Homo sapiens: one gene and its partner. The protein of the gene in region 2 purifies or fractionates together with the protein of the main gene of each other region. This does not show direct contact. Each region holds a gene or a part of one and is shown on either strand. Other genes may lie near its edges. The genes, in order: AGL and XYLB.

Region 1 (3,816 bases), on a different chromosome or scaffold from region 2:
TAGTGCTCTGTTACTGCAGCTCTAGCAAACTAACAGATACCAAAATTAAAAAACAAAATGAGGTTACAAAACCATGAATATGCTGCCCATAATTACACTTGGACACTAGGACATGGAATGTATCCATACAAATATAAGGAAGTCCCCTTTCCCTTGCTTTCCTGAAAAATTCATCCTGAAGTCATTAGGTGGGACAGAGCAAGGTAGGTGACCAGAAATGGAGGGGAAAGGGTAATAGGTAGTATGGAGCAGGATGTTAGAGTCCAAGAGGTATGAAGAGGGAGTCCACCAAGGGTGAGAGTGGTCCAGAGTGGGTAGTTAGAATCCAAGTGGTGCCAGGAGGGCTCCACACATAGAGGTGGCTTACTGTGGGGTAGCAGGCCCAAGCTGGGTGAGCAGACTCTATGTGGTGGTGATGGCCCAATGTGGGAAGTAGGTTATTCATTGTTGGAAAAGGGAATTACAAATATAGAAAGGGAGAAAAATAGAATTAAACACTGAGAAATAGCTTGGAACTGGTGTAAACTCAGGTTTTCAACACACATAGACAGGATACATTGAGATGAAGATAAGTGTGTATGTATTTACTTATGTTTATGTATTATTATATATTCCCTAGCCCTATCTACTGGGGGTCATAGTAATAATAAATACACCATGTGCTCAGATCTGGCTTCTAAATAACATTTTTCACTATAAAGAACAAGGGATCCTTAGAGAATTGCCCAATTCCAGGCTGGGGTAGTGAAAGTGAAAGATGAGTGTTGAAAACCTTGCTGGGCCAGAAAGCAAGGAAGGACTTCCATATGTGACAAACAGGAAGTAGTATGGACAGAATTTCCCTCCTGTCTGATACAACTGAAGAACTGGACATTAAGACATTAGACATTAGGCAACAAATAGCGATCCTTGAAGGATGAGAAACAAATGAAGCAAACCCTATGATTACCATACCTTACTGCCTTGAGAGTTTCCAGGATTTGGCACAGAGAGGGGGAACACAGGTGGAGCCTGGCAGACTTCCTTGAGTTGAACTGAGAATCCAGGAACACTACAAAGCAGCTACAATTTGCAGGATAGAGTACTAGAGAGGAAGGAGCTGTACAAAGAGAGAACTCTGAAGATATGCAGAGGGTCCCACTCAAGTATCTGTAGTGTACCAACCAGCAAATTCACAAGAGGAAACTACCAAAGAACAAGGAAAGAACCATCCAAAAGGATGAGAAGAAGCAGTATGTGGCACTCATACAGCGTCAGGAACACTTGCTTGTTCCCACCAGCCAGATTTGAAAACGTCATAATTTTCGAAATACAGGGTAGGGAACACAGATGGGTCTTGATTCACTAATGGAGAATAATTATTCCTAGACCAAATGCTATTCTGGTCAGGTCTAACAAGCTTAAAATCAAGACCAGAAAGGATCAAACTGTTTCCAAGTAATTTCACTGCATTCCAAAACAAAGCTCAAAAACATTTACAGAAACACCAAAAATCTAGCACCCAACAAGGTAAAATTCACATCTGGTATCTAATAAAAAATAACCAGGCAAATGGCTGGGTGTGGTGGCTCATGCCTGTAATCTCAGCACTTCAGGAGGCCGAGGTTGGGGGACTGCTTGAGCCTAGGAGTTCGAGACCAGCCTGGGCAAGATAGCAAGACCCCTGTCGCTCCAAAAATCAAAAAACAAAAACTACCAAGCAAAGAAGCAGGGTGATATGACCCAAAATAAAGAGAACAATCACAAGCAAAAGCAACCCAGAAATGAATTAGCAGACAAGGATATTAAAAGAGTCACTGTAATCATATTCCACATGTTCAAAACATTAAGCAGAGACATGGAAGATATAAAAACAGCCCAGATAAAACTTTGAGAAATGAAAACTACAACGTTGAAATGAAAAACACCAGCATGGATGTGATGGTAGGTTAGACATAAAAATGATGCAGATTTCTTATCAAAACAATGTAACCACCTTAAAGTATGAAAGAGAAAAAAGCTTAACTTTGAATTCTATACATAGTGAAAATATCTTTAAAATAAAGGCAAAACACAGATGTTTTACACTTATAAGAATTGAAAGAATTCATCATGAGGAGGCAAACACTACAAGACATGATGGAGAAAGTCCTTCGGGTAGAAGGAAAATGATACAAGATGGAGATACAGAACATCACAAACATATGAAGAGCACTGAAAATGGCAACTATAAGAGTAATTAGACTTTTTAATATATTATTTAAAGATCATTAAAACATAACTGACTGCCTAAACAAATGTAGTAACCATGTAGTGTGGGGGGTAATAACAGGTAAAAGCAAAATGGATGATGATGATAGCACACAGGCCGGGAGGGGAAAAATAAAACTATACTATTTTAAGGATCTTTATACCTTACTTGAAGTGGTATATCACTGGAAGGTAAACTATAAAGACATATACTATAAACCTAAAGCAGCCATTTTAAATAAACAAGAATTACATCTAATTAGCCAACAAAGGAGATTAAAATGAAATAATAAATATTCAATGCAAAAGAAGCACAAAAAGAGGAAAAAGCTAACAAAGAACAGACAGAATAAACAGACAACAAACATTTAAATTTCACAATTTCAGACCTTAAGTGTAAATGGTCTAAATATTCCAAAAGCAGAAACTGTTGTGCTACACGAGAGCAAGGCCCGATTACATGCTACTATGTACAAGAAAGCCACTTTAAATACAAAGACATAAATAGCTTAAAAGGATGGTAAAATCTGTACCATGGTGACAACCAAACAAAACAGACCAGGAGTGGCTCTATTAATATGAAACACGCAGAAGTCCCTTATGTGCTTGTAAGAAAGGAGATAAAATTTGTGCTGTTTATTCATTATCTGAGGAATAGAATATAGATATACTTAGGTATAATCTAAAATTTGAGGAATTAAGATACACTCTGAATTTATACTCTTATAAAGATACGTAACTCTGACACTGTCTATTTGCTAATAATTAGGACAAGGAAGTGAAAAATGTTTTTTGAACTAACAGGCAAAAGACCAGTTCTGATATTTTAACTATAATGAAAGCATTTCTGAAAACTATTTCTTGATATATCTTTAAATCAATTAACTCAAAAGGCCCAGGCTGAGTACCTTCAGTTTTTATATTTATCCTGTGCTAACCACATCCAAAAACATCAGGGAAATTTTAAAAATCAAAGACTATTCCACATGTATAAATCGCACAATATCAAGACCTCAACTTAAAATAAATAACAACCCAAAATAAGAGAAAGTGAAAATTATATAACAGAATTTGTCATGTTAAAGAATAAAGGCTTCACTTTTCATTGGGATACCTAGGGCATACAGAAATCAATTCTAAGAAACTGTAATTTACCTAATAGCTAATAAACTGACTAAACACTAGTTATGGAAATTACATGCTCCTGATGACTTACCTCTCAAGATGAACATAATGTCGGGAAAGAACATTTTTAACCAAAACTATAGTCTTTGCAGTAGTCTCCGGGCCCATCAATCTGGAAAAATATAATTTTGCACGAAGAAAATACCCAATAGGCCACAGCCACTCCTAAAAAAGATTATTTAAAAGACAAAAAAAACCATAAATACCTAAAAATTACTTGAAAAATAATTTAAACTGAAACTCAGAAGATAAATGAAATTCTTACAGGTCCTTGGTGATAATTGAAACCTTTAGCAAGATTGTAGTTGTCATTGTCTAATGCATTGTCATAAATTCCACAGTAAACCATATCACTGCAAAATGATTGAAATTTAAGTTAAATAAAAGATGATCAGATATTAT
Region 2 (3,916 bases):
CCATACGCAGTGGCTCACGCTTGTAATCCCAGCACTTTGAGAGGATGAGGCAGGCGGAACACCTGAGGTCGGGAGTTCAAGACCAGCCTAACAAACATGGAGAAACCTCGTCTCTACTAAAAATACAAAATTAGCTGGGCGTGGTGGCGGATGCCTGTAATCTCAGCTACTCGGGAGGCTGAGGCAGGAGAATCACTTGAACCCAGAAGGCAGAGGTTTCAATGAGCTGAAATCACGCCATTGCACTCCAGCCTGGGCAACAAGAGTGAAACTCCGTTTCAAAAAAAAAAAAAAATTAGCTGGGTGCGGTGGTGTGCGCCTGTAATCCCAGCTACATGGGAGGCTGAGGCAGAAGAATCAGTTGAACCAGGGAGGTGGAGGTTGCAGTGACCGGAGATCACGCCACTGCACTCCAGCCTGGGTGACAGGAGTGAAACTCTGTCAAAAAAAAAAAAAAAAGTCATCAAGCAGTTAAGATTAGATTAAAATGCAGTAATCTAATCTTAATTAGATTAGATACTTAGATACCTTTATTTAAAATTTTTTAAAAGTGGAGATAATAGTACCTACTTCCCAGCATCATTGTGACGATTAAATGTGCTCAGCAGGTTGCATAATTGTTTCTGATCTAGCTAGTATCCAGTATTTGTCTATTGTCACAGGTGGTGACTGCTGGAGGGGCTGAGTCCCCAATAAGCTGTGAATGTCTTGGAGGACAAGTATGTTGGCCCCTTCTTGTTCTAGCAGTGAAGAGGATCCCATGTAGACTCCAAGCAGCTCAAGTTCAGCAAGGGAGACAGACCATTGCAAGTGCATGAAAAGGGCACTGGTGGGCTGGGAAGTTCGTAGGAGGAGCCTCTCACATGCTGGGTTTGGGGAGGAATTCTGGAAAGCAGTTAGTCTTAGGGACGGGAAGGATGTAGCTGGTGGGACAGGCGCCCTCAGCTCCATGAATAAAAGGAGTGGGTCTGACTCTGGTTCTCATTCCCCTTTACCATGCCTGGCACACATTAGACCATCAATACCAATTGACTCCAGGAAGGAGTGTCTCCCCGTGGGGGCATCAGGAGCCGCTGAGTTTAAATACACAGGTGGGATGTGACACACTGGGAACCATTCAGATTTGCTGGATCTGGATAGGGCTTGTCAGGACTCAGTGCTTCCAACCCCAGGGCCCATTTCCCTGTGGCCCCTGAGTCACCACCATGGGTGGACAGCTGCTCCAGTGCCAAGATACAGCCACAGAGGACGGCAGGCCCAGGGCCTCCAGAAGGACAGGCAGGCTCCCTCTGAAAGACAAGCCGGCTTATAGCTGAAACCTCTGGCCCAGGCGTCCTCTAAGGGAAGCCAGGCGGTGTCAGGGCACGGCCCATGAAGACATAAGATGAAGATGGGGAGAACCAGAGGGGGTGCGCTTCGAAGGAAAGCGGGCTGCGTGGGGGCACCGTCGATTGCACAGGACGCGGTCCCGGCTCGCGTAGCCCCGCAGGCGGCGCCAGAGCGCAAGCCCGCCTCGTGACTCCGGTCCACAGTCCGGCCGGGCGGAGCTAGGGGCGGGCCCCTGCGTCTCTGGGCGCTGGAGCGCGGCGACTATCACGCCGCGTGGCGGACGGACGGACTGACGGACGCGCAGCCTTACCCGAAAGGCCATGGCGGAGCACGCCCCTCGCCGCTGCTGCCTGGGCTGGGACTTCAGCACGCAGCAGGTACAGTCGCCTGGCCGCAGGGCCACGGGGCCGCCTCCTCCGCTTCGGTGGGGGTAGGGGGCGGGCTGTCACCCGGACGCGGGAAAACATGGGCCCGGCCGCGGGCGCGCCTACCTCTCGGGCTTCCCGGGGCCCCCGCGCCCCTGCCCTGCGCGCGGCCGTGGGGCGCCGGTGCCCTCGCCCGGAGATGCCCTGCCAATGCCACCCGCTCGCAAGATGCGGCCTCGACCCCGCCTGGACCCAGCTACCCCAGGAAACTGCAGGCGCTCCTCGGCAGGACCCCCGGTGCCCAGAGGGGCCGGAGGACTCGGCGGGTTCCTGCGCTGTTCTGGGCACCCAGTGACGGGGATCCGAAGGAAGTCAGCTACTGTAAGGCAGGGGAACAGACAGGCGGGTAGCCCTGCGCACATGCACAACCAGTGACCTGGAAGCAGATTATAGCCCAAAACCTTTTTTTAAAAATTGAAATGGCCCAGGCCTGGTGGCTCTTGCCGGTAATCCCAGCACTTTGGGAGGCCGAGGCGAGTGGATCGCTTGAGCCCAGGAGTTCGAGACCAGCCTGGGCAATATGGAGAAACCCCGGTCTCTACCAGAAAATACAAAAATTAGCCGGGCATGGTGGAGCACACCTGTAGTCCCAGTTTTTCTGGAGGCTGAAGCGGATCGCTTGAGCCCAGGAGGTGGAGATTGCAGTGAGCTAAGATGGCGTCACCGGTCTCCAGCCTGGGCGACAGAACGGGACCCTGTCTCAAAAAAAAAAAAAGAAAAAAGTGAAATGCATAGTGTACAAGTGGACTTTACCCTGTGACCGCCCTTCGTTGACACCAGCTTGCCTGGTCTGTGCACCCAGGACTGCTGGCCAGAGGAGCAGTGTGCTGCTGCCAACGCCCTGCAGACAGGCAAGCAAATCAAAATTTGCCTTCAAAGAGGGCATGGGGTGACCGGGGGCACCTTTTCCTTTAAAGTACTTGGGAAATATACACAGTTGCAGTCAAACCCCTCTTCTCGAATGGGTCAAGGGAGGCAGGCCTCTGGCCAGTCCTTGGGGGAACGTCCTGTGGGACTCTGGATGACTCGAGTTGCCTTGCTGGACCTCAGTTTTCCCATCTGTCCAGGAAAGGAGTTATACTCCCAAGCTTGGAGATTGCTTCAGTGGGACATTAATGTCTCTGGACCACAATCATGGCCTGTGAGAATAGCCCATGGCCTTGCCTGGTCTCAGGCCTCTGCAGACATGGATCCCCAGAGATGCCTCCAAACCTTGCTTCCCATTCCTTCCTCTCTGGCACTTTCTCCCGCCTCCTTGTCAGGTGCACGAACCAACTCATCTGTGAACATCTTCCTCTAGAGGGTCTTGGCTTTGGCTATTTGGGGAACAAAGATTCCTTGAGACATGTGGGTGTTCCTACTTAGCCTCAGTTTCTTCATTTTACTAAATCTTTGAGTGTTACCCCAGATGAGTCCTCTGTTACCACGATTACGGTGAGGCAGCCCTGCCTTCAAGGAGGTCTCTAGGTTGAACTGCTCCTAGGGTGTGGGGCCTCATCTGGTGACGTTAGTACCCCCTGGACCAGTGTAGAAGCTGAGGAAAATTCTACACTTCCTTTTTTAAAATGCCTTTCAGGTAAAGGTTGTTGCTGTTGATGCAGAGTTGAATGTCTTCTATGAGGAAAGTGTGCATTTTGACAGAGATCTTCCAGAATTTGGGTATGTACTTGATGTGCATGTGTGTGTGATGGGGGTGTTGGTTTTGGGGTCCTCCCGCAAACTTTTGTATTCGCAGACCGCACTGTTGAGGCTTTGCCAAATACAGGAGTGGTGGTCTCGGCAGACCTTTCAAGCATCTTTTTTTCCTATACCTAGAGTGCCATCTCCCCCATTTCTTCCTAATTCCATTCATCCATTCATGAAGTAAGCATCAGTTGAGACCTACTTTGTGCCAGGTGCTAGGACCTGATGGCGAAACAAAAAGAGAAAGCTCTCCCAGAGCTTCCCACTGAGTAGTGGAGACTGGTATCAAACAAAGAATCTCACAAAAGAGTGTTTCATTATAAACTCTGAGAAGGCCTCTGAAGGAAAGGAACTCACTTCTCCAAGTGCTTATTATAAAGGAATGTGACTCAGACTTGGGAGGGGAAGTCCCAGAGCGTCTCTAGGGAAGTGGTGCTTAAGCTAGAGATCAGAGTGAGTGAAGTTAGCCAAGCGATGGA

The links.
Region 1: the proteins of XYLB (region 2) and AGL fractionate together in Homo sapiens (co-fractionation; one large-scale study listed by BioGRID). This does not show direct contact.

What each region holds. Positions count from the first base shown.
Region 1 is NC_000001.11:99,916,361-99,920,176, reverse strand, and holds part of AGL (glycogen debranching enzyme), read right to left. Parts: intron 3,768-3,816; coding exon 3,680-3,767; intron 3,580-3,679; coding exon 3,446-3,579; intron 1-3,445. UniProt on the Homo sapiens protein: Multifunctional enzyme acting as 1,4-alpha-D-glucan:1,4-alpha-D-glucan 4-alpha-D-glycosyltransferase and amylo-1,6-glucosidase in glycogen degradation.
Region 2 is NC_000003.12:38,345,220-38,349,135, forward strand, and holds the start of XYLB (xylulose kinase), read left to right. Parts: upstream 1-1,565; 5' UTR 1,566-1,649; coding exon 1,650-1,706; intron 1,707-1,713; exon of another isoform or gene 1,714-2,605; intron 2,606-3,327; exon of another isoform or gene 3,328-3,330; coding exon 3,331-3,413; intron 3,414-3,916. UniProt on the Homo sapiens protein: Phosphorylates D-xylulose to produce D-xylulose 5-phosphate, a molecule that may play an important role in the regulation of glucose metabolism and lipogenesis.